Linked DNA regions of Homo sapiens. The protein of the gene in region 2 purifies or fractionates together with the protein of the main gene of each other region. This does not show direct contact. Each region holds a gene or a part of one and is shown on either strand. Other genes may lie near its edges.

Region 1 (11,150 bases), on a different chromosome or scaffold from region 2:
GTACATGGTCTTGCTAAGGTGTGAGCCAAAGCATTTACTGTTGTTTATGCTCATTCATAATCTATAATACAAAGAATGGGAACAAGAAAAGAGTAAAGAATGAGAAGAACAGAAAAAGGGCATGACTACAATTTTGCAAAACTAAACAAAACAAAAAACAGCAATACACAGAAGAAGGATTAGAACAGAATTTTCCTGGGTGTCCAGATAAGTCCTCTGGTTGTAAGATATGCATGATTAGGAGTCAATTATGCAAAGTGAGTGAATGAATGAAGAATGAATCTGCCAAGGTTTTAAGACTTAAAGTTTAGATGAGTTGATTTTTTTTTTTTTTTTTTTTTTTTTTGATGGAGTCTCGCTCTGTCACCAGGCTGGAGCGCAGTGGTGCAATCTCGGCTCACTGCAACCTGTGCCTCCCAGGTTCAAGCAATTCTCCTGCCTCAGCCTCCCGAGTAGCTGGGACTACAGGTGCACGCCACCACGCCCAGCTAATTTTTGTATTTTCAGTAGAGATAGGGTTTCATCATGTTGGCCAGGATGGTCTCGATCTCTTGACCTCGTGATTCGCCCACCTTGGCCTCCCAAAGTGCTGGGATTACAGGCGTGAGCCACCGTGACTGGCAGTGGAGTTGATTATTTTACGTGCATTCATTATAAGCTTGGTGAACAAAGACAGCGAACATAAACACAAAGCTTAAACGTCTCACAGCTAACTTTAAAATCCAGCGGACTTATTGAGGGTGAGTTGGTGCACCTGAGAAAGAGATGGAGGGTGGAAAGGAGAAACTCAGTGTGGAGGTTCTCTGAAGCCCAGACAGGAGCAGGACGCTGACTAGGTAGGGCTGGGGCCGATGGAGGTGAGGAGTCAGTCCATTCTCCAAAAGAAGGACCCTGATGAGAAGGAAAGAGGATCTAAGATCTTCTCCAGGAGGAGGAAGGACTGATCAATTCTTGAAACTCTAAAATGATGGCTTACAATGTGCTAACAAACTGGCTTGGGTTCATCCTGTATAATATCCTCTAATTTAGAAACAGAAAAGGGGTTTAGTGAGTGGTGGTGGTGGGTGGTGATAAGTGAGAAGACCCTCCAATTCTCAATATCATCAATTTTTCTTTGATGCCTGTACACATGTTTGAGAAGGTTTTAAACTTCTCTGAATTTGGATTTGCAGTTTCTAGTAACACAGCAGTAAATCCTAGAGGAGAAGTTCTACAGAATCCAGATTCAAGTTTAGCAGCAACTGGGGATAAAGTGAAAAAGCAGGAGAAAAGCAGGTATAGTCTTAGACATAGATATTTTCTATTTTGCTAAAATACAGTAAGAAAAAAATCTGTGAACTTCAACAGTTCTAATAAAAACTAAATGAATGTACAGACACAGAACAAAATACATGATAACTATTAAATATAATTGCACCATGTTTATACATTGAGTTATTTAGTATAGTAGTCTAGGTATCAGTGCTGTTAATTTTCTCATTTTCTACTTTCTTCATTCATTTATTCAACAAATGTTTATTGAGAGATGTTTTGTGCCAGGCACTGGAATTATAATGATGAACAAGACATAGTCTTCTCCCCAACAATTATATCCTCTATCCTGGGAAATGATAAATAGCAATTTCCATATAGTATGACATGTGCCATGATAGATCTAAAGACAGGACTCTGGCTGGATGTGGTGACTCTTGCCTATAATTCCAGCATTTTGGGAGGCTGAGGAGGGAGGATTGCTTGAGGCTAGGAATTGAGACTGCCCTGGTCAACATAGTAAGACCCTGCATCTACAAAAAATTTTTTTTAAATTATGGCCAACCGCGTGGCTCACACCTGTAATCCCAGCACTTTGGAAGGCCAAGGCAGGTGGATCACTTGAGGTCAGGAGTTTAAGACCAGCCTGCCAACATGGTGAAACCCCGTCTCTACTAAAAATAGAAAAATTAGCCAGGGGTGGTGGCATGAGCTTGTAATCCCAGTTACTCGGGAGGCTGAGGCAGGAGGATCACTTGAACCCGGGAGGCAGACCTTGTAGTGAGTCAAGAGAATGCTACTGCAGTCCAGCCTGGGTGATGGGAGTGAAACCCTGTAAAACAAAACAAAACAAAACAAAACAAAACAAAACAAACAAACAAACAAAACAAAAAAACAAAAAAAAACAAAAAACATTGGCTCACGCATGTATTCCTAGCACTTTGGGAGGCTGAGGCAGGTGGATCACCTGAAGTCAGGAGTTCGAGACCAGCCTGGCCAACATGGTAAAACCCCATCTCTACTAAAAATACAAAAATTTGCTGGGCATGGTGGTGGGTGCCTGTAATCCCAGCTACTTGGGAGGCTGAGGCAGGAGAATCGCTTGAACCCAGAATGGGGAGGTTGCAGTGAGCTGAGATTGCGCCATTGCACTCCAGCCTGGGCGACAAGAGCAAGACTCTGTCTTTAAAAAAAAAAAAAAAATTGCCATGCATTGGTGGCACATGCCTGTAGTCCCAGCTACGCTGGAAGCTGAATCAGGGCAATTGCTTGAGCCCAGGAGTTCGATGCTGCAGTAGGCTATGATGGCACCACTGCACTCCACCCTGGGTGACAGAGCAAGACCCTATTTCTAAAATAAAAACAAAAACAGGCAGGACCCACTGGGAGCAGAAGTGAAAGGCACTACTCTAGGTCTTTTGGGATTGGTACAAAGCCACCATTCCAGTGGTACTGTGAGGTTGATAGCTGGAGGACAAGGGAAAACTACACAAAATAGAGTGAAGAAGCATGTGCAAAGAGCTGGAGGAGATCACCTGTGGAACTAGAACTGGTTGCCTGTTTGGAGATTTTAAAATGCCAGCCATCAGCCATGGTATTTATTGAGAACTATTCAGATTTTAAAGTAAATGCTTAACTAAATGTCACTAGAAAACAGTATTTTTCTTAGCCTTATAATGTAAACATGGGCTGGGCGCGGTAGCTTACGCCTGTAATCCCAGCATTTTGGGAGGCCGAGGTGGGTGGATCACCTGAGGTCAAGAGTTCAAGACCAGCCTGGCCAACATGGTGAAACACAGTCTCTACTAAAAATACAAAAAATTAGCCAGGCGTGGTGGCACAGGCCTGTAATCCTAGCTACTCAGGAGGCTGAGGCAGGAGAATCACCTGAACCCAGGAGGCAGAGGTTGCAGTGAGCTGAGATCGTGCTATTGTACTCCAGACTGGGTGACAAGAGCAAAGTTCCGTCTCAGTAAATAAATTAAGTAAGTAAACATGATAAGTTGACGATGTATCACAAATTCATCATCAAGATAATAGTTTCAGAGTGCAGGCTGACAATTTCATAGGGAAAGCAGAAGTAAAGGATAGCCAGAAATAGAAAGGCCCACATAGTGACTTCTTTTTTAAGAATTTCAATGCTCTGAAAGATCATGAATAAATAATATTATTTTCCAAAATGTACTAATGTATTTCATTAGATGTGTATAAAACAAAATACGTATAACATTGTGGCTGTTATTTAAACAATGGAAAGAAAGTGATGCCATTTTCCATTTACAATTTGTTTTAAAAATCAAAGATATGTAAATTTACTTCCCATATTTTGTTAGTGTATTTTCTTTTTTTCCAATTCCTGCTTATTCTGAAATAACAGCCAAGTATCATTTGATAATACTCAAGAAATAATAAAGTAGGTATGATAACTTTTAAAACCACCATAGGGCTTAGAGTTCAGGAGGTTCCGGCTCAGACCCATGTTTGGCAATGATAATCTCCTTAATTTCAAGAATTTTATAACCAAAAATGAGTTTTTGTCTTAGAAAGCCTATCACAAGAAAAAGTAGTGAGAAAAGCCTACGACTCCAGAAACTATTGGTCATAACTTTTCCTAAAAAGCAAACTACACAAAGTGAGACACGCAGTTGGGGTGTGGAGAGAGCAGTTTCTTTATTCATTTTTAGAATTAGAAGGGAGAAATTTGGCTGGGTGCAGTGGCTCATGGCTGTAATTCCAGCTCTTTGGGAGACTGAGGTGGGTGGATCACCTGAGGTCAAGAGTTCAAACCAGCGTGGCCAACATGGCGAAACCCCGTCTCTACTAAAAATACAAAAATTAGCTGGGTATGGTGGTGCACACCTGTAATCCCAGCTATCTGGGAGGCTGAGGCAGGAGAATTGCTTGAACCTGGGAGGCAGACATTGCAGTGAGCCGAGATCATACAACTGCACTCCAGCCTGGGCGAGAGTGAGACTCTGTCTCACAAAGAAAAAAAAAGGAAAAAAAGAAGGGAGAAATCCTGTTGATGGAGTTTATGGTGGCTGATGTCCTAGAAAGTACTGATTAGAAAGTATTAATTTATGTCTTAGAAAGTAATAACGGCCAGGCGCGGTGGCTCATGCCTGTAATCCCAGCACTTTGGGAGGCCGAGGCGGGTGGATCATGAGGTCAGGAGTTCGAGACCAGCCTGGCCAACATGGTGAAACCGAGTCTCTACTAAAAATACAAAAATTAGCCTGGCATGGTGGCAGGTGCCTGTAACCCCAGCTACTCGGGAGGCTGAGGCAGGAGAATCGCTTGAACCCAGGAGGCAGAGGTTGCAGTGAGCCAAGATCGTGTCATTGCACTCCAGCCTGGGCAACAAGAGCAAGACTCTGTCTCAAATAAAAAAAAAAAAAAAGAATAACAAGATTTATTTCATCAAATTTAAACAGAATTCACATTGACTTCACAGCCCTTTGAATATACTTGGACTTTAAGTTCAACTGTGCTGTTGACCAGTCTTTCCAAACGGTGTTACAGTACAAAGAGCATGGGCTGCTGAACCAGACTGACTAAATAGGAAACTCTGCAATGCCACTTGTCAGCTATGCATCTTGACCAACTTATTATTATTATGTTGCACGTGGGTCTTGAAATCCTGGGCTCAAGCAATCCTCTGGCCTGGGTCTCCCAAAGTGTTGGGGTTACAGGTGTGAGCCACCACTCCTGGTTTCCCCAAATTATTTAATCTCCCTGGGCCAGTTCTTTTACTCATAAAATGGATTTGTTTCTAACACAGAATTGTTGGAAACTTAAATGAGTGTCTAACGTGCCTCGTATTGCCAGACTCTCAATAAACTTTTGCCCAGTCAACTAATATCCAGCAAAGAGGCTAGCGATTTTTCTTTTTTTTTTGAGACAGAGTTTTGCTGTGTCGCGCAGGCTGGAGTGCAGTGGTAGCTCGATCTTGGCCCGCTGCAACCTCCGCCTCCTGGGTTCAAGCTATTCTCATGCCTCAGCCTCCCTTGTAGCTGGTATTACAGGCGTGCACCATCGCGCCCGACTAATTTTTTTCCCCCGAGAGGAGTTTTGCTCAGTCGCCCAGGCTGGAGTGCAGTGCCGAGATCTCAGCTCACTGCAACGTCTGCCTCCCGGGTTCAAGCGCTTCTCCTGCCTCAGCCTCCCGAGTAGCTGGGATTACAGGTGCGTGCCTCCACGCCCAGCTAATTTTTGTATTTTTAGTAGAGACGGGGTTTCACCACATTTGCCAGGCTGGTCCCGAACTCCTGACCTCAAATGAGCCGCTTGCCTCGGTCGGCTTCCCAAAATGCTGGGAGGCTAGTGATATTTAACGCTAAATAACTCTGGCCTCCAAAGATACCTGTTTCCATTTTAAGACACTTCTATTTCGTTTTGGGAGGGTAAACTAGTTATATTTTAATAATGAAAACATGTGTTACATAAGCACATAGTGAGTACTCGAATCAACCTCGGACTCTCCGGGCGTGAGGGGTGGGTGAGGGGACCGGCAGGTGGTCACAGCCCCATCAAAAGGGAGTTGGGGCTGGGGGATGTCGCGGTCAACTGGGAAAGGAGAGCCAATCAGCAAGTGGCGCGTCCCACGCCGTCTGTCAAATGCATCTGGGGGTTAGCTGTACTCATACATCTTGTGGGTGACTAGGTGACTTCCGTGTTCAAGACACAAGCGAGCTAAGCCTGGGATTTCAGTTTGCACAGCGCTTTGTTAAGTTTTGTCTCTCAATCTTGCTGTCCAAGAGCGAACCTGGAGGTCGTCTGTTAGCGGTAAATTCTTTACCCACATTCCGAAAAGGAAAACGGCGGCCGCGCGCGAGGACATATTCCTTGGATGGTCACTCAACCAGGACTCCGCTGCTCCCGCGCCCTAGCTTGACCTAGCGCACCGCCCCCTCCCCGACGCAGGCGCAGTCGCGGAGCTGTAGAGCCCCACGCAGCTGCAGAGCCATCGGGCTGCTGCGCCATGCGCGCGACTGGGAAAGAAGGGGTCGCGCTAGGCTTGCGTCACTCGTCTGCGACGGCGCCTTCGCGAAACACTATGCTAATGGCATGGTGCCGCGGTCCTGTCTTGCTGTGCCTGCGGCAGGGGCTCGGAACCAATTCATTCCTGCACGGCCTGGGGCAGGAGCCCTTCGAGGGAGCTCGGTCACTGTGTTGCAGGTCCTCGCCTAGAGACCTGCGAGATGGAGAAAGAGAGCACGAGGCGGCACAAAGGAAAGCCCCAGGAGCAGAGTCTTGCCCATCTCTCCCTCTGAGCATCTCGGACATTGGGACTGGATGTCTTTCGTCACTGGAAAACCTCAGACTGCCGACGCTGCGGGAAGAGTCATCCCCTCGAGAGCTCGAGGACTCGAGCGGAGACCAGGGCCGGTGCGGTCCCACACACCAGGGATCCGAGGATCCTTCGATGCTCTCGCAGGCCCAGTCCGCTACCGAGGTCGAAGAGCGTCACGTCTCCCCTTCTTGTTCAACTTCCAGAGAGAGACCCTTTCAGGCTGGGGAACTGATTTTAGCTGAGACTGGGGAGGGAGAAACAAAATTTAAGAAATTATTTAGGTTGAACAACTTCGGACTCTTAAATAGTAACTGGGGGGCAGTCCCGTTCGGCAAGATCGTGGGGAAGTTCCCCGGCCAGATACTGAGGAGTTCCTTCGGTAAGCAGTACATGCTGAGGAGGCCAGCCTTGGAAGACTATGTAGTATTGATGAAAAGAGGGACTGCCATAACATTCCCAAAGGTAATGCGATGGAGATAAGGTGTGTATTGGTTTCAGGAGGGGCAAAGACAGATGCAGTACTCAGTCCTGATTAATGTATTCAAAGACATCTCAGAACGTTTGGATTTTTTATTGTACTCAGGCTTTTAAAATAAACCAATGGTTATAACTTTTACATATCATGATGAAAATTAGCATTAGGGAACGGCTAGATTTTAATTTTAACTTAGGAGTCTCGAGTCCCTTATTTGTAAAATGTGGATAATAGCTCAACTTTCTGTTAGGGTGATGTGAACTCACTACGTACATAATAAGTACTAATTTTGTTCCCCATTACTCTTAAGTTTATAACTTCAGGACTCAAGAGAATGTTGAACTCTTAGGGAACAATTTTTTAGTACTACTATGATGATATTTTAATATTCAATAATCATGTTACAAGAGTATATTAACAATAGGTACATTACGGTGCTTTTCCCCTTTTAGGGAAGAAATAGAGTTTTATATTACAATAGCTAACATTCAACACCAAACATAAAATGACTATTCTTTATTAAAAAGTTAACTGCCTAAAGCCTAGTTTCAGTCTTTTTTTTAAGACAAGTTCTCACTCTGTCATCCAGGCTGGAGTGCAGTGTTGCGATCTTGGCTCCCTGCAACCTCTGCCTCCCGGGTTCAAGCGATTCTCCCACCACAGCCTCCTGAGTACCTGGGACTACAGGCATGCACCACCACCCCGGGCTAATTTTTGTAGAGACGGGGTTTCGCCTTATTGCCCAGGCTGGTCTTCAACTCGTGGCCTCAAGTGATCCGCCCACCTCGGCCTCCCAGTGCTGGGATTACAGGCGGGAGCCACCGCGCCCAGCCCTAGTTTGAAGCTTATGCTAATCATCTATTGCTAGCAGATTATTTCAATCCTTAGTCACAGTCCTTGAGTAGAATGTTCCTGTGTAACACAACTCCTCCTCCTTTCTCCAGATCAGGATTCATTCGTTATTTATTCAGCAAATTGACTGCCTTCCATACTCAAGGCACTGTTTAGGGAAGTATAGTGTTGAACTGCAGTCCTCACCCTCAACATAGACCTTACATTCTAGAAGGGGTGACAAAGAACAAACAAGTAAATGAAAGAATAAGGTCATTTCCAGTAGTGTTAAGTGTCATGAAGACAAATATATTAACAATGACATTGTTTTGGGTGACCTGGGGTATGAGCATACTTTATGTCAGGTGAGGAGAGATGGTCTCCAAGGAGGTACACTTGATAGGAAACCTAAATAAGGAAGAGCTTGCCTTGTAAACAGATCTAGGAAGAGAATTGTTCTTGCAAAGGGAGGAATGCTGCAGAGTTTCTGTTGTGGCCTCAATGGGTCAGATGAGGGACCCCGTATGAGGTGTGGTTTGAGTATTTTATTCCATTTGTAGTGAAGGACCATTAGAAGGTTCTTAGTAGGAATCCAGTCTGTATTTTAAACGGTCTACCCAGGGACTAAAAAAACTTTCCTCAGAAACTTAGGCTACTGAGGTATAATAAGCTTTTTTTGTTTAAAGACAAGGTCTTGCTATGTCACCCAGGCTAGAGTGCAGTGGCTCAATCACCTCTTACTGTAGCCTGAACCTCCCAGGCTCCAACAATCCTCGCACCTCAACCTCCTGAGTAGCTGGGACCACAGGTGCATGCCACTATGCCTAGCTAATCAAAAATTTTTTTTGTAGAGTTGGGGTCGCCCTAACTTGCCCAGACTGGTCTCAAACTTCTCTAGGCTCAAGGGATCCTCCCTTGAGGGTGCTGGGATTACAGGTGAGAACGACCGCTCCTGGCCATGGTATCATAAGCTCTTGAAGAAAACTAAAAGACTTTCGTAATTTTATCTTGCTTCCCCGTGTCTCCTTTCTCCCCATTAGACAAAATCAGGAGAGATTAGTTACATTTCATGAAGTTATAAATATGCATATTTAGTATACTTTCTGCCTTTCCATTTGTTACAGATAAAAGTCACATTGTTCCACTCTAAGGAGGAATTTAAGTACTAAATTTGTTAGGTGTTGACTTCTCTTTATAGCTTCCAAGTAATGGCTGGAGATAGTTTTACTTCAACTTCTACAACTTTGAAATGCTTGAGGGAATACCTTCACTGATGTTTAAAAACTGATCTCCCTGTTAGAATTACATAATTCCATCTTAGTATTAAAAATATGACCAGAGGCAGAGTGCAGTGGCTCACACTTGTAATCTCAATATTTTGGGAGGCTGAGGCAGGAGGATCATTTGAGCCCAGAAGTTTGAGACCAGCCGGGGCAACATAGGGAGACCTTGTCTCTACAAAAAATAAAAAATTAGCCAGGTATGCTGGCACACACTTGTGGTCCCAGCTACGCAGGAGGCTGAGATGGGAGGATTGTTTGAGCCCAGGAGTTTGAGGCTGCAGCGAGCCATGATCTTGCCACTGCACTCCAGCCTGGGCAACAGTGTAAGATCCTATCTCAAAAAAAAAGTGAGGGGGCAGGTGCCGTCACTCACACCTGTAATCTCAGTGCTTTGTGAGGCCAAGGCAGGAGGATTGCTGGAGGCTAGGAGTTCAAGACTAACCTGGCCAACATAGCAGGACCCCATCTTTATAAAAAATAAAAAAAAAATTAGTTGGGCATGGTGGTACATGCCTGTGGTCCCAGCTACTTTGGAGGCTGAGGTAGGAGGATTGCTTGAGCCCAGAAGTTCGAGGCTGCCGTGAGCTACTATTGCACTACTACACTCCAGTCTGAGTGACAGAGACCCTGTCACCAAGAAAATTTGTTTACTAAATTTAAAAAAACAGTTTTTATTAATATCATCCGTAATATTTGTGTTAACAAAAACAATTCCAATTATATGTTTGGCAAGTGGGTCCTCCAATCTAGTAATAGCATAGTCTCTTTTTTTTCTTATATAGCAGGGCTCCCCTACCCCCAGGCTGAGGACTGGTACCAGTGTGTGGCCTGTAACAGGGAACCGGGCCACACAGCAGGTTAGCGGTGGGTAGTGAGCATTACTGCCTGAGCTCCATCTCTTGTCAGATCAGCCATGGCATTAGATTCTCATAGGAGTGCAAACTCTTGTGAACTGTGCATGCACCAGATCTAGGTTGCATGCTCCTTATAAGAAACTAACTAATGCCTGATGATCTGAGGTGGAACAATTTCATCCCAAAACCATCCCCCTCTCCCCAGTCTGTGGAAAAACTGTCTTCCACGAAACGGGTCCCTAGTGCCCAAAAGGTTGGGGACCGCTGTTATATAGTATCTTAATTCTAAATTAGAAGTTCATCATTTGGCCAGGCACGTTGGCTCACACCTGTAATCCCAGCACTTTAGGAGGCCGAGGCGGGCAGATCACCTGAAATCAGGAGTTTGAGACCAGCCTGGCCAACATGGTGAAACCCCATCTCTACTAAAAATACAAAAAATTAGCTGGGTGTGGTGGTGGGTGCCTGTAATCCCAGCTACTTGGGAGGCTGAAGCAGGAGAATCGCTTGAACCCAGGAGGCGGAGCTTGCAGTGAGCCAAGATTGTACCACTGCACTCCAGCCTGGGTGACAGAGCGAGACTCTGTCCCCCCAAAAATAAGAAGTTCATCATTTTGAGCTGGGCACACTGGCTCACACCTGTAATCCCAGCACTGTGGGAGGCTGAGGCGAGCGGATCACCTGAGGTCAGGAGTTCAAGACCAGCCTGGCCAACGTGGTGAAACCCCATCTCCACTAAAAATACAAAAATTAGCCGGGCATGGTGGCAGGCACCTGTAATCCCAGCTATTCGGGAGGCTGAGGCAGGAGAATCGCTTGAACCCGGGAGGCGGAGGTTGCAGTGAGCCAAGATCGTGCCATCACACTCCAGCCTGGGGGACAAGAGTGAGACTTCGTCTCCCAAAAAAAAAAAAAAAAAAAAAAAGGAAATTCATCATTTTATGCAGAGATTATATAGTAAATTCCTAACTGGTCTTCCTGCCTCTTGATTTTTCTCCAGTAGATCCTGTATTCTTCTGCCAGATTAATCCTCATAAAATGCCATTTATATCACCTCAGTGACACACCCTAGTTGCTTATCAGGCTGAGTTCTAATGCCTCATACTGGCATTTAATTCTCTGCCTATCTCTCCTGAGATAACAAACTGGATTTATTCTACCTC
Region 2 (11,218 bases):
CTTTGGCAAGCAATTACATAACAGCTTTCAAAAAAGAACGCTGCAAAAATGTAAATCATTTCCACATGATTTACAAACTTTAAAGGTGACTTAAAAATTCTCAAAACATTCTGTTATGGCTGGTAAAAGTGAAAAGGGAAGTAAGAAGACAGAAACAAGACAAGAACCCTCTGTGTTTTCTTTCTCCTCCATAAAATATTTCCCCCACCAAAAGCACACATGGCCGCTGAGCAGCAACTTACCATTTTTCCAGGGTCAGTTCACTTTTCGTGCTGCTCTAAACCCTGCTGAAAGCCAGCTCCTCGGGGAGCCCCAGGAATGGGGGCTGGCCTCTCTTCAGTCTGCAAGCACTCAGAAGGAAATGCCCCTTGCTGAGAAAGGGGTGGTGTTAGGGGAGAATCCATCTACTGTCAAGGAAATTTCAATTAAATATGGATGCCAATTAATTTAATTTATATTTCTGCATGAAAAATGTCATTCTATTATACATGCACTGGAAGGATGCCAGGAGCCCAAGTTAATAAATTACAGCTCTACCGACATAATGTGGAATCACAGACTAATCGGATACTTATTAAATGCCCACCTGTGCTTGGGGCTACACCTTGTAGAAATCCAGCTGAAATAAGGTCTGTCCAGTAAGGCCTGTCCTTACACTGTGATCATCTGACACCCTCTCTCATCCTCCTCTTCTCCTAGCTTTGGGCATGTCTCAGGAGAACAACTGTAAAAATGAATAATCAACATTCAATTGCCAGTCGTTATGAATGGGCATATTTAATGAATAAGGGAATGAATGAAGGGGAACTGTAAATAATCTATTCAAATTAATCGGGGAACAGGCCTACTCTGGTTAGCAGGAAACTTGCCATGATTATTTGATTACAGATTCAAATCAGCTGGTGGTGGGTAATAATAATACCTACTGGTTATGAAGTGCCAACTCTGTGCCACACTCCATGTTTTATTTTGCATCCTTGCTATGTGTTTTATTTTGAATCCTTACAATAATCTTTCAGGGTAAGGATTACTCCTTCCCACATCCCTCATTTTAGAGACACAAAAGCTGAAGTGCAGTACACAGAAATGACCTTGCTCAAGGTCATGTGATTAGTAAGACGCACACTCTCCTGTCCTGGCCGATTGTCTTTGCATCATATCTCTGTTCTCTAGGACAAGTGTCAGCACTCTCTCCATGGGGGATGGGCTGGTGACTGCCCTATTCTGGCAGTGCTGACACACTGGAGAGTTCTTCATGCACTACAGTGATGATTAAATCACCAGGAGATGACTCTGTAATACCCCCTGCCTGGGAATTCATCCTGCTCTCCTCTGCTGCAGTTCTGTATAGTCGTGAAACGGATGTCACTCAGTTGCAACAAGTTCTCGAGTAGCCACTCATTGTTTTAGCCAGTTATTTATTCACCATTCACTAAGCACCCACTATGTGCTAGGTCCTAGGATCCAATAAAGTAAAAGGAGGTCAGACTAATGGGGAAGACAGATGCCCTAACACAAAATTGCAGTGTGTGTGGTTTAATACCACGGAATTGCTAACGTTCCTTTTGTTGTTTATTCAATCAATCCTTATACCCTGTATGAACACTTACAGAGTCTCTATAACATACTGGACAACAGGCCCGTTCTCACATTTTCAAGCCAGGGCAGGAAAAGTCATGAAAGCCATCAGCCTGAGTCTGTTCTTCTGACTTCCTCTTTCTTCCCATACCTGACTTCATCTTGCACTGCAAGGGGCCTCCCATGTATGTGTCTGGGCATCCCAGCCTATGTGTACAAATTTTGAAACACCTCCCGCCAGAACCTCTTAACATCAGGAAGAGGCTTCTGTGCAGCCTAGAAGCAACTTTTGGCCTCTTTGAGTAGGGAGTGCTGGGATCCAGGACCCAGAGAGTGGTACAAAAAGGGAGGGAATGGGCTTTGGGTGGGCACTGCCCTCTGGCTCTATTCACTCTTTCCCCTGTGGCTGCAGACAGGGCAGAGGAAGGCCAGAGGGCCTCAGAGTATGGTCCTCAATGCAGCCACTTGGCATCACCTGGAAACTCATTAGAAATGCAGAATCACAGGCCCCACTGCAGACTTTGTGAGAGTCAGGTCTGCTTTTTTTTTTTTTTTGAGATGGACTCTTGCTCTGTCACCCAAGCTGGAGTGCAGTGGCGTGATCTCAGCTCATTGCAACTTCTGCCTCCCGGGTTCAAGCAATTCTCCTTCCTCAGCCTCCTGAGTAGCTGGGGTTACAGGTGCACGCCACCACGCCCGGTCAATTTTTGTATTTTTAGTAGAGATGAGGTTTCACCATGTTGGCCAGGCTGGTCTCAAACTCTTGACCTCAGGCGATCCGCCCGCTTCGGCCTCCCAAAGTGCTGGGATTACAGACGTGAGAGCCACTGTGCCCGGCCAGATCTGCATTTTAACAAGATTCCCAGGTATTTCATGGCCTTTTGAGAAACACTCTCTAAGGGCCCTAGCTTAAGCCCCTCTTTTGGTAAATGAAGAGACTGAGGCTGCCCGAAACACAGGGCAGGAAGAGGGGCCTGGCCTGGGGCTGGGTTGCCCAGGTCTGAGAGTGTCCTTCTAGGCACCTTGCTATTCTCTAGGGTAAACATGTGCCACAGCAAATTTCAGAGAAAACACCTTTCGAGTAACTCAGATTGAGAGGGGCCTGGAGTAAGAGATTTACAACAAGCGATCCAAGGAAGAGAATTCCATGAAGTCATGGGCAAGGTAATTAAAGGAAAATTAAATTAAAGTGTTTTTTTCTGAATTAAAGGAGAGTGAAAACAAGTCATTGCACAAGCAAACTTGAGGGAGGGTTGAGGAACTCTTGTTTTTCATTTTGTTTCTGAGGCCAATGCAAATGAGCTGGAGTAGACTCTTCCATAGTCCAGTGAACTGCCCTTTTTTGTTTTTGTTTTTGTTTTCTGCATTCCTTTAGCCTTCCTCCTTTTTCCTCAGTATATTTTAGTTCCCAAACCTTTCTGATCCATGTGGCCCTTCACCTCCCTGCTTTTGGTTTTCTCAAATCATTCACTCAGCTCCAAAGAATATAAAAAAGATAAGTCAACAGAACAATTTTTTTCTTTTTTATTTTTTTTGAGACACGGCATCACTGTTCACCCAAGCTGGAGCGCAGTGGTGCCACCGCTGCACACTGCAGCTTCCACCTCTTGGGTTCAAGTGATCCTGCCACCTCAGCTACCCCAGTAGCTGGGCCTACAGACATGTGCCGCCATGCCCAGCTAATTATATTTTTATTAGTAGAGATAGGGTCTCACCATGTTGCCCAGGCTGGTCTTGAACTCCTGAGCTCAAGGGATCCTCCCTCCTCGCCCTCCCAAAGTGCTGGGATTATAGGCATGAGCCACCATGTCTGGCCAGAACAAAGTTTAAAAATATGGTCAGCAAATATGTCCTAAGAATATTAAATGCATCGGCTGGGCGCAGTGGCTCACGCCTGTAATCCCAGCACTTTGGGAAGCTGAGGTGGGCGGATCACCTGAGGTCAGAAGTTCGAGACCAGCCTGGCCAACATGGTGAAACCCCATCTCTACTAAAAATACAAAAATTAGCCGGGCATGGTGGTGGGTGCCTGTAGTCCCAGTTACTTGGGAGGCTGAGGCAGGAGAATTGCTTGAACCCAGGAAATGGGGGTTGCAGTGAGCCGAGATCATGCCATTGCACTCCAGCCTGGGCAACAGAGTGAGACTCCGTCTCAAACAAAAGGAAAAGAAAAGAAAAAAAGAGTTGCATTTCGATTTTATAAGTTCCCTTCAGCCAGCTACAGTTATCTACATGTTGCCAGTTGTGTTTCAGTTCTGCCTAGCCCATCTTCTCATCCCTATTGCTCACCTATCTTTTCTTTTTCCTCCTACCCTCCCTCTTTTCTTTCCCTTTCTTTCTGCCTTTCTCTCCTCTCTTTCTTTCTTGCTGGTGTTTATTAAAGCATAGTCCAGACATCATGTCAATTAACTCACTTCCTACAGAGTTTCCTTGAGGCAGGGCCACAAGAGAATGTATGTAGGCTGGGGAAATGATCTCTTATGATTATGTTCTTGACCAAAATAAGGAATTTGTGTTACTGAGATAAGAAACAATAAAGAATTTCCAAAACCTCTTCATAATACCCCAGATATTGTGGACTTTATTTTCTATCTCTATGTCTTCCCCCTAGAGTCTTTCAGGGGTGTCTATGAGAACTTTTTCATCTTCCTTTACTATTAAACTAGTAACAGAATAACAAAAACTTTGGATGTTTATATATCTAAAAAGAGGTGAATATTCTCTTTCTGTTGGTGAAAAGGATTCTCAGGGCATCAGTTTTGAAGTTAAAATTTGACAATGGAAAGTTTGCAGAGATCTTCTATGACAAGAAACCAAACATATCACTGCCTCCCCCCAACCCCTCGCCCAGGCAAACTCCTGAAGCTGATTGTTGTAATGGTTTTAAAGGTGCTTAGGATGAGGACCTAGATCTGAAGCATGGTGCACAGTTGTTTACTGTTCACACAAGTCAGATCTACGAAGGATCAAGTAATTTGGAGGTTTGGTTACTTTCCATTAGTAAACATCATCCAACTAAATTTGGGTAAAATGCCCTCTAAATAAGTCAAGTAGACAGGAGCTTTGAATGAGGGAATTAATTATAGCTGGTGTCTCCAGGAAAAAGAATCCCACTGTGGCATGGAGAATGTAATTAATGGGAGGTAAGTGCCAACAAATCACTCCTTAAAATATTAATGCTATCAAAGAACAGCTGGATAATGAGAGAAACTTGACCCTTGGGGGACCAGCAAAGGTTGCTGCTGCAGCAGAACTTTATGCAGTTATGACGTAATGAAATTCCTCTAAATTTTAACAAAAACTAATATTAAAAGGTGTGGTTCTGGGAAAGTTATTAGCAGTAAACATGTCATAATTTTTATCATCTGATTATAATCACTATATCTCATTTTTGCTGTGTTTCTAAGTGACATTTTCCTGTAATTGCTCAGGATATATATACAATTGAAACAACACTCCTAAAAAACAACTAGAGTTAAAAAAAAGATTAAGTCTGGCAAGACCTTTTTTTTGTAAATAAAAAACCCAATATCTAAGAAATTTCTGCAAAACAATTTCCCATATGCTTAAACTATTTAACTAAAAAACTGTTTCATTGTTTGTTATTGAAAGCTCCAACTTAATTTGTTTTTACTTAATAGCTTCGTATTGTCCTAAGAAATATGTAACTCTAAGAGAGCAATAAAGTTAAATATTTACACGGTCCCACTTAACGTGTGAAATGGACATGTATTTTCAGCAGCCACATAACTAAATGCTAATCCCAATACCTAAAATTAGAAATCAGAAGTAATTATTTAATTGGAATATACTTTAACTTAGATAAAAAAAAAAAAAAAAGAAATCGTTTTAATAGGAGATTTTTAAAAAAGTTTCTCCGGAATCGACTCGGTTCATCAGGAAGCTGCGAACGTGATAAATGCGTTTGACCGCGCACCTTGTGTCGCTGGAGCTGAGAACACTTTGTTCCTTTTGTTTCACTCAACTTGCCGACATCTAACTCAGGGACACGGGTATGCAGCTTGTTTGACAAATAAGCCGAGATACACCGAACATATTCACACATACCAATAGACGATGATTGGAAGTTCAGGATGCAGTCAAAATAAATGCTTGCGTTTGGCCCAGGTTTCACATAACACCAGTTTCATAAGGCACTTAGGCCGCTAACGGAGCAGTGCCCCTGAAAATAGCCCACAGGGGACACATCATTTAAATAAATGTGTTTCTTTCCCTGAACAGAAGTTCAGTTCTGCTCAATTATCATTAATTTTGCTCCTTTATTTCCTTTGCGGGCGTGAACGGAGAAGTCGTGCTCTTTGAGGTTTTGCGAGCTGGCCTTGGCTGGCAGAGGTGACCGGCAATCCTTCAGCCGGCGGAAAAAGTGCGAGTGTGTGTGTGTGTGTGCTTGTGAAAATGTGCCGTTCCTCCCAGAAAAAGTGGAAACGTAGGTGGAAAGCTCAGCACATGTTGGCGACACCTAAAAACCATGTTCTCGGTCCTGAACCTTTAGAAGCGGTATCCCAGGAACGAGTCTGAGTCTGTGCAACAGGGCACAGATGATTCGACAAACTTCAATGACTGCACCGCATTCATGCATTATATCCATTGAAAAGTAAATCCAGCGTCTCCACTCGCGCGCCCACGTGCGTGGATAAACGCGGGAATTCGGCAGCCCTCAACGTCACTCTGCAGAGATTTCCGGGCTGTGAGAGAGTTGGGGTGTGCGGCGGGGGAGGGGAGGGTCTGATATCTTCAGGTTGAGAGTCAAGTCCTGGGGGAGCGGCATGGGCGGGGGTGGCCGGGGGGAGGCGGAGGATGGAGCGCGAACCAGAAAGCGCAGAGGACCCTCGGCCCGCGCCGCACCCGCTGTGATTAGCTCCAGAGGCGCGATCCGGGAGGGCGGACTCTTTCTTAACCCTCATTGTCTCCTCCTCCCTCTTCCTTTTTAAAAGACGCCTTGCGGGCAGAGCTGTCAGCAACCCCGCGGCCGTTTGTACTTGGCCGCGGCGGAGCTGACTCCTGCTCCTGTGACAGATAGGGGCTGGGGCTGAGCGGCCGCCTGTCTGGGGTACTCGCACGTGGGGAACAAATTCTTTTCCTCCGGCTCCTCTCGGGACCCGGCGATCGCCACAGGTTGGGACTCTGTGCGGCGCTGGAGTTGGCAGCCCCGGGCGCTATGGCTCCCTTGAGGAGTGGGGAGGGAGGTGGCCGGGGGGTTGGCGCGCCCCTCGCGCGGGGAGCGCTATGAGCCGGGCGAAGGGCGGCAGCGACAGCCCCAGCAACTGCCTCTGCCGGCGCCTCCCGCAGGCCCTCGCCAACTCGCCCCGCGCACCATGCTGACTCCCGGCCTGCGGAACTCGTAGTGCAGCCCCTGTCGCCTCCCCGGCCCCTGCTATCCCACGCAGGACTGGCTTCGGCCGCCGGGGCCAGCAGCTTGCGACGTGTCCCTGGGGAGGCGGAATCGCTGTGCGCCCTGAGCCCGGGCTCAGCCCTTCGCTTTCCAGCTGCGTCCTGCTCCCGGCCGCCCAGGGAGCCCAGTGGCGATGAGGGCACTGCTGGCGCTTTGCCTTCTCCTTGGCTGGCTGCGCTGGGGCCCGGCGGGCGCCCAGCAGTCCGGAGAGTACTGCCACGGCTGGGTGGACGTGCAGGGCAACTACCACGAGGGCTTCCAGTGCCCAGAGGACTTCGACACGCTGGACGCTACCATCTGCTGCGGCTCCTGCGCGCTCCGCTACTGTTGCGCCGCGGCCGACGCCAGGCTGGAGCAGGGCGGCTGCACCAACGACCGCCGCGAACTGGAGCACCCAGGCATCACTGCGCGTAAGTGCGGGGCCCTCGGGGACATATCCCCGCCCGCCTAACGGCGGCGGCTGCATGTGTGCGCGGGAGGATGCACAGACCCAGGCAGGTCTATGCGCCTTCCTGGGTCTGTGCGCCAGGGGGACGCGGCCGGGTGGGGGAATCAAGGGATGAGTGGGTGGTCGCGTTTCAGATCATGGTCCTCTATTCATTTGCAGTCCCGCTTCCCGCCACTTGCGGTCTCTGCGGGTCGGCCCGCAGGGAAAGTTTGCCAGGGACAGTGAGGAGCGCGGGGCTTGTGCCTGGTAGCCGGGGGGAAGACAGCTGGAGCTCCCGGGAGAAGGGTAGTGCGGGTAAAGCCAGGGTAGACTTGGGTTTTGGTGGAGGGGCCGAGGGTGTCCCATTGCTCGCCCTTGTCACTTCGGGAGCTTCGGGAAGTGCCGAATGCAGGGAATCGCGACTCTTGTCGCGCGCTCATTTGCAGCCCTTCAGGGCTAAGAAACCCCAGTCACTTTTTTTTTCTGTCTTAATGATAGCGTTTCTAAGCCACGGCCCCGTTCTGCAGACTTCCTTTCAATTCTCTGCATCGAATTACCCTCTCCGGCCCACCCCCTATTGTCACGCCTTTCAGAAATGCCCAGGTCTTCGAGGTGGAGATTTAGAAACAAGGGTCGAAGGGGCTTCCCCGCCCCCTATTCTCACTTCGGAAAACACGGGTCAAATTTCCGCTGACTTCAGAGCGGAATAAATCACGACCCCAGCAGAGAAAATTTACACCTTGAAAAAAAGTTTTCCACCTGAATCGGAACATCAGGGAAACGCTTTAGAGCTTGAGGCGAGGGTTTTATGGCCAGGGAAACCGGAGAAGCGGGCGGAGCTGAGAGCGGGTGACACCCCAGGACTCCAGAGAGCCGAGGTCTGGAGCCCGCAAGAGAAGGTCGCCGGGAAAGGGAAGAGAGGCTGGAGAGATCATTAAGGGTTCCCCAACGGCCCCTCCCCGCAAACTGATAACCCAGAGGACAGGGGAGTCTGCCCTCCATTAGTGCTCCACTAGAGGGTGAATGTTGGGGGTCAACATTTCCAATCTAGAGGATTCTGGAAGTAGTTCTGGAGAAAAGATGCTCAGCGGAAAGTAGGGAAATCTAGGCCCTCCTGGCCTGTTAGAAAAATATAGACTCTTCCCCACGGCTTCACTCGCTCACCCTGGGGGACCCAGCTGCCCTCTGGGAGTAAGTGCAATTGCCCAGTCTGCAGCACGGGCTTCCTCTGCGCTCCCTACTCGGCTCGGATGCCAGAGGACAGCAGAAGGGAGAGGCAGTCTCCACACTCACTGAGTCTGGGATCAGGCAAACCCTGATGGACCTTGGCTCTGTCACTTGCCGGCGGTGTAACTTGGGCAAGTTACTTAACTGCTCTGGATACCTCTTCTCAGTTCTAAAGTGGGCATATTGCTCTCAAAGGAGTTAAGTTGTTGGTGACGTGAGAGTGTATGAATGCTGGAGCGCAGGGCTCAGTAAATGGTAGTTACTTACCTTTGCCTTGCCTTGCACGCTGGTGCTAGTAAACAAGGGAGAATGGGAGGGACACAGAAGAGCTTACGCCTAGTAGCCCACAAATAATTGATAGTTACCTGTCCCTCACTAGCTCTGTCTGTGGGAATGCGCAAACTTCTCTGATGTATTTCCACATCTGGAAAATGGAGCTTATCATGTCCATCTCACAGGGTCTCCAAGAGACTTTAATCAGATAATGAATAAGAAAGAGCCAGGCACACAGTAGGGACTTAGTCAATGCAGGCTTTCTTTCTTCTACCTGTAAGCTGGAGGCTGCGTCTTAGCACGGCTCTATCAGGGGAGAGACCTGGAGAACTGCCCAAGGGGATGCCTCCGGGCTTGGGAATTTTATGTCTGCCTTGTAGAGAGAGAAGGAAATTGGAGTTTGCTCTGTTTGAGGGATGCTTTTATAGAAAGTCTGGGCCGTGGACACCAAGAATTGCCTGGTGATCTATCTAAAGTTCAGTCTGACTTCCCAGGCTTGGATGGGAATTGAGAGGCACGGCAGCTGGAGTGGGTATTCCAAATCTTTCCTGGAAAGAAGCAGCCAGAGCTGGCAATTTGTGGTGTATGGTAGGAGACACAGTCGATTGGGGCCCTCTGTGAATTTCTTTATACTGTTCTTTCTGGAGTCTCATAAAATCCTGGGTCTGTGTGTAGAGGGGAATCTCATTTAATAGGCCTGGCTCCCTTTGCTTAGACTGGAGATTATTGAATGGGAGATGGATTGCCAGCCTAAGAGAGGGGACAAGTCTCTTACTGCTCACCGTGATCAAACTACTAAAACCTGCATTTAAACCTAGAATTATTTTAACCCCTAAAACTCACCCTTTCCCTCTAGTGCCTGAACAGGAGAACAGATTCCGTTTTTTTTTTCTGACTTCCAGATGTGCAATATGATAGTTAATTGCTAACAGAGGCTACGGTATCCGTTTGCTTCCTCCCTGCTAGGAGTAGCGAGAATATTCCATCATCACGGTTTGCATTGCATTTTGGAGGTTACCATTAACAAGCTCTGAAAAACTGAGCTGACAGCAGTGATAGTAACTGAGTCTCCCACCTCTCAACCCTCAGCTGCCCAAGCAGAGTTCAGAATCTGGGAGATCCTCATCTGAGCATCTGTTTATGTCTGTTTTTGCCTTTTAGAGCCTGTCTACGTCCCCTTTCTCATCGTCGGCTCCATCTTCATTGCGTTCATCATCCTGGGCTCTGTAGTGGCTATTTATTGTTGCACCTGTTTGAGACCCAAGGAGCCCTCGCAGCAGCCAATCCGCTTCTCACTCCGCAGCTATCAGACAGAGACCCTGCCCATGATCCTGACCTCCACCAGCCCCAGGGCACCCTCCCGGCAGTCCAGCACAGCCACGAGCTCCAGCTCCACAGGCGGCTCCATCCGCAGGTTCTCCTTTGCCAGGGCTGAGCCGGGCTGCCTGGTGCCCTCACCGCCCCCGCCATACACCACCAGCCACTCAATCCACCTGGCTCAGCCATCTGGTTTCCTGGTGTCACCCCAGTATTTCGCTTACCCCCTCCAGCAGGAGCCCCCACTGCCTGGGAAGAGCTGTCCAGACTTCAGTTCCAGTTGACACGCCCAGGCCATGAATCCACAACTCAGTCAGATGGCAGACAGGTGGAGCCCTGCTCCCATTGCCACATGCAATTCTGAGAAAATTTCCCTTGTAACTGATCAGTGTCATGGAGGAGCATGCTAGGAAAACACAGCACCTTCTAATTTGAAAGTTCCTGTCTCCAATCACAGAAAGGCTAAACCAGAGAACTGTTTTCTGGTTTTGCAAACATGTGATCATTACATTTCAATCTATGCTACTTTTATTCAAAATATGCAGCAGTTTGACTTTAAAGTTGCAAACTGGCTAAAAACGTTTTACTGGACATTCAGCTATATTGCTTAGAAAAGGGCTACATGTTTCTTTTTCATATAAGTTGTTCATTGAGTTATGATAGGAATATATTCATAAATAAGCAAAGAAAAATACCTAATTGTAATTATCAAAGGTTCACTTAAAAAATTAACTATTAGGTAAACTTAAGGGGGCAGTGAAAAATCTATTTATGATTTCGGGAGTAACCTAACCATGAATAATATTAGCATAATGAGAACATTTACTTTTTAAATAAATAACTAAATTTTGTTTACAATATGAGTTTTTCCAGAATACAAGGTTTCAATAATCACATGAGGAGTTTAAAGTTTTAAATATATACTCAGACATTCATTGTAACACAGAGTGTATGTAAAATCATTTCCCCCACTCACTGGAGGG
Region 3 (4,537 bases), on a different chromosome or scaffold from region 2:
CATTGGCCACAACCACGTCTCCCTACTTAGGATGGGTGCCCTGAGGGCAGGGCGGGGAGGACTCCGGGCATGTCCCCAGGAATGGATAAACAATGCCCAGAGTGTCTTGTTAAAGAGCCCCTGGTGACTCCCAGCGGCTGGGTTGCAACCTCTGATTAAACCACCCTTTTCTCTTCCAGCAACAACTAAATGACTCCTCTGTCATCATCAGCGCCCTCAAGACCTACCTGGTGTCGGGGTAAGGAGCCCCTCGGAGACCAGGTGGCCATTGCTTTTGGTGGCTTCCTCCAGGGAGGCCTCCCCTGAGTTCCCTCCTGGGAGCACGTGGAGCTGCTGCTTAGATTTCCAGAGTACAGAGTGGCTCGCACCTGTAATCCCAGCACTTTGGGAGGCCGAGGCAGGCAGATCACCTGAGGTCAGGAGTTCCAGACCAGCCTGGCCAACATGGCGAAGCTCCATCTCTACTAAAAATACAAAAATTAGCCAGGCATAGTGGCGAGTGCCTGTAGTCCCAGCTACTCAGGAGGCTGAGGCAGGAGAATCGCTTGAACCCGGGAGGCAGAGGGTTGCGGTGAGCCAAGATCGTGCCACTGCACTCCAGCCTGGGTGACAGAGCGAGACTCCGTCTCAAAAAAAAAAAAAAATGATTTTCCAGAGTAGCCCGTGGCCGTCCTCCTCCAAGCCCCCTACTTTGTCCTCCCCACACCTCCCTCTCTTGGGGAGGTAGCCCTGGCATCTACTCCAAATCCCTCTTACTGCAAGAGTCCGGAGAGCCTTTGTTGGTCCTGGCTCCACTCTGAGGCTGGGGCAGCGGGGTTGGTCGGCCACAGGGGACGGAGGGGGAAGGAGTTGGGGTGATATTGTGGCTCTCTCCGAAGGCAGCCCCTGGAAGAGATCATCACCTACTACCCAGCCATGAAGGCTGTGAACGAGCAGGGCAAGGAGGTGACCGAGTTCGGCAATAAGTACTGGCTCATGCTCAACGAGAAGGAGGCCCAGCAAGTGTATGGTGGGAAGGAGGCCAGGACGTGAGTGGGGCTGGGGCTGGCGGGGGAAGGTGGTGACCGCAGGGGTCTTCTGTAGAGTAGGACCAAGCTGAGCAAGATGGCGTGAGCAGGGAGCAGCATGGGAGACCAGCGGGGCTGGGGCCGGGCCATGCCGGATTTCAGTAGAGACCTTCCTGCAGCCGGGCGTGGTGGCTCACTCCTGTAATCCCAGCCTGTTGGGAGGCCGAGGCAGGCAGATCACCTGAGGTCAGGAGTTCAAGACCAGCCTGGCCAACATGGCAAAACCCCATCTCTATAAAAATGCAAAAATTAGCTAGGTGTGGAGGCACACACCTATAATCCCAGCTACTAAGGAGGCTGAAGCAGGAGAATCGCTTGAACCCAGGAGGCGGAGGATGCAGTGAGCTGAGATGGTGCCATTGCACTCCAGCCTGGGTGACAGAGCGAGACTTTGTCTCAAAAAAAAAAAAAAGACCTTCCTGCTCAGGCTTCAGCTTCCCGCCCGTGCAGTGGGTATGTTCTAGAGAATGCAGCCTGCTCCCAACACAGCCCGGGTCCTGGCTTAGGAAGTCCCTCCCGTGCCCGCAGGGAGGAGATGAAGTGGCGGCAGTGGGCGGACGACTGGCTGGTGCACCTGATCTCCCCCAATGTGTACCGCACGCCCACCGAGGCTCTGGCGTCCTTTGACTACATTGTCCGCGAGGGCAAGTTCGGAGCCGTGGAGGGTGCCGTGGCCAAGTACATGGGTGCAGCGGCCATGTACCTCATCAGCAAGCGACTCAAGAGCAGGCAAGTGTGTGTGCACATCCGGGGCCTGCTGTCCCCGAGCCTCCGGTGCCACGAGCAGTGGTGATCCCATCACACCCCTCAGGAGACCAGCGGGAGGCCGAGGCCTAGGGCAGGTGGGAAACGCATTATGGATTATGGGTCCCTTGGCCAAGATGGGACTTGGACCCAGAGCTCCTGCTCACCTCCCCTGGGGACAGCAGGGCTGGCCTTGAAGCCGGAAGCCTGGGCCCTGACTGGCGCCTCCTCTGTGGCTTTCTCCCTGGCCTGGTCTCTTGCCTTTACCACAGCCTCCCCGTCTGGGACGGATGCTCCCTGAGGCGTCTGCAGATGTGATGCTCTCACCTGGGGTGCCGTCCTGGCTTCCACACCTCCCCCCTCTCCCCAGAGGAGACCCTCTTCCCTGCTGGGCTGGGAGTGGGGGCTCCCCTGAGGGGCTTTTCCCTTCCCCGCCCAGGCACCGCCTCCAGGACAACGTGCGCGAGGACCTCTATGAGGCTGCTGACAAGTGGGTGGCTGCTGTGGGCAAGGACCGGCCCTTCATGGGGGGCCAGAAGCCGAATCTCGCTGATTTGGTGAGTGTGGTGGTGGCAGGTGGTGCCTGGACCGAGGGTTCTGTCCTCAGAGTGGGGGAGGTTTGCAAGGGAAAGCCTGGACGGTGCTTGCATCTTGCCAGAGGAACCTGCCTCTCTCTGCCATCACGGACAGAAACTCGCCTCGAAGTGGCTCCAGGAGAGAAACAGATGACCAGGAACCGCCTTGGTTCACATAACTGACAAGTTCAGGGAACGGGTTGGCTTCGGGCCCTGCTGGATCCAGAGGCCCGGGTGGTGTTACCAGAGCCCAAGCTCTACCTGTCGCCATCAACACTGCCCTCCCTGGAGTTGGCTTCAGCCTCAGGCGGGCTGGGTCCGGTGCTCCAGGCTTCTCCCAGAAAACCCCTGGGAGGGCGTCTCACTGGCCTGGCTTCACTGCCCTTTTTCCTTTTGTTTTTTTTTGTTGTTGTTGTTTTTGTTTTTTTTTTGAGACCAAGTCTCACGCTGTCACCCAGGCGGGAGTGCAGCGGTGCAGTCTTGGCTCGCTGCAACCTCCGCCTCCCAGGTTCAAGCAATTCTTCTGCCTCAGCCTCCTGAGTAGCTGGGATTACAGGCCTGTGCCACCATGCCCGGCTAATTTTTGAATTTTTAGTAGAGACAGAGTTTCAGTATGTTGGTCAGGCTGGTCTCGAACTCCTGACCGCAGGTGATCCATCCACTTTGGCCTCCCAAAGTGCTGGGACTACAGGCGTGAGCCAGCGTGCCTGGCCCACTGCTCATTTTTAAAACTGTCCTGCCCCTGGGTGACCTGGGTCTTGAAACTGGGTGGTGGGGTCTCTTCTCCCCCATCTCAGGACCTGAGATGAGGGGAGGGCATTTATCCCAAGGAAACTTGCTGGGGGGCAGGGTCTGTGGCCCAGAAAAGGGGGTACAGATGTGAAGCAGGCGAGACCTGCAGCCACCCCACATGCTTTGTTCAAACCCTCACCTGTGCTGTTGGCCCTTGAGTGGGTCACGAGCTCCAAGGGGGGAGGGGACGGGACCTGGCCACACAGCTGGCAGGGAACGAAGGAGGTCTGGATGCCTGTCAAACCAGCTATGGTGACACGTTTCTGTTCGTGCCCCAGGCGGTGTATGGCGTGCTGCGTGTGATGGAGGGGCTGGATGCGTTCGATGACCTGATGCAGCACACGCACATCCAGCCCTGGTACCTGCGGGTGGAGAGGGCCATCACCGAGGCCTCCCCAGCGCACTGAATGTCCCCGCGCAGAGCAGAGGGAAGGCAGCGGAAGACGCCAGCTGCCAGGGCCTGGGGCCACTGGGCCAGCGCCTGGCGATACTGGTTGGGGGCAGGATCATTCTGCCCCTTGTCCACGCACCCCCACCAGCCCTCTCGCTTCTAACACAGGGCACCTGCTGGGGCTCAGGGATGTTAGGGACGAGTTCCAGCCCTGCCACTGCCCTGGGGCGACCCCTCCCTGTCCCTGCCTCCCTGCTCTGCCGCCCCTCTTCCTGGACCCTCAGTGGCTGTCCCATGGCTACATCCTGTGGGTGGGGGCCCTCGACAGGACAGCAGGACGGTTTGTTTTCAGTGGAATCCCATCCCTGGGTTCCCCTGGTTCCCACTCTTCCCAAGCCTCCCGGGACTGGGACATGTTTGCAATAAAGGAAAGGTTTGTGGCGCCTGTCATGGCAGGCATCTCATGGAGCTCCGTGTGGCTGAGTGCTGCGTGGGGCTGGCGGTCAAGGGAGGCATCAGGCTTGGGCTGTGCCAGCCCTTGTGGTAACTAACCGCTGGCCTGGGGCTTCCCAGGTGTCAGGCACGGTACGGCTCCGCAGGCTTTGTGTGGCATCGTCCCCAGGATACCACTCAGGGCACACAGCTGGGCCGTGGAGCCCAGCAGCCAGAGTGCAGGTCGGGGCACCCTACCCACGGTGGGGCTCTGCAGTGGGGTCACTCATCAAGCCTCAGTTTCTTCGTCTGTCCCCGCCTTGTGGGAGAGTTCAGTGATAGGAGCAGGTGCAGTGCACAGAGCCGGGTCACCTGGTCCAGGGCACCAGGCTATTCAGACCCCTGCTCTACAGACAGAACCAAGCCCTCTCAGGTGGCGGCCCCGGGCTTCAGCTCCAGGCTGGGCCAGGCTTTATGGGAGAAGAGGCTCTGCCTTCCAGGGTGAGTGTGGGTTGTGGGTGGGACCCCCTTTCCTG

The links.
Region 1: the proteins of SHISA3 (region 2) and TRMT61B purify together in Homo sapiens (co-immunoprecipitation; 2 studies listed by BioGRID and IntAct, with this or other methods). This does not show direct contact.
Region 3: the proteins of SHISA3 (region 2) and PTGES2 purify together in Homo sapiens (co-immunoprecipitation; 2 studies listed by BioGRID and IntAct, with this or other methods). This does not show direct contact.

Annotation. Positions count from the first base shown.
Region 1 is NC_000002.12:28,865,435-28,876,584, reverse strand, and holds the start of TRMT61B (tRNA (adenine(58)-N(1))-methyltransferase, mitochondrial precursor), read left to right. Parts: upstream 1-6,275; 5' UTR 6,276-6,307; coding exon 6,308-7,006; exon of another isoform or gene 7,007-7,025; intron 7,026-11,150.
Region 2 is NC_000004.12:42,390,933-42,402,150, forward strand, and holds the start of SHISA3 (protein shisa-3 homolog precursor), read left to right. Parts: upstream 1-6,555; 5' UTR 6,556-7,124; coding exon 7,125-7,401; intron 7,402-10,079; coding exon 10,080-10,519; 3' UTR 10,520-11,218. UniProt on the Homo sapiens protein: Plays an essential role in the maturation of presomitic mesoderm cells by individual attenuation of both FGF and WNT signaling.
Region 3 is NC_000009.12:128,120,193-128,124,729, reverse strand, and holds the end of PTGES2 (prostaglandin E synthase 2), read left to right. Parts: intron 1-179; coding exon 180-238; intron 239-878; coding exon 879-1,028; intron 1,029-1,595; coding exon 1,596-1,796; intron 1,797-2,083; coding exon of another isoform or gene 2,084-2,129; exon of another isoform or gene 2,130-2,244; intron 2,245-2,250; coding exon 2,251-2,368; intron 2,369-3,456; coding exon 3,457-3,585; 3' UTR 3,586-4,037; downstream 4,038-4,537. UniProt on the Homo sapiens protein: Isomerase that catalyzes the conversion of PGH2 into the more stable prostaglandin E2 (PGE2) (in vitro). The biological function and the GSH-dependent property of PTGES2 is still under debate.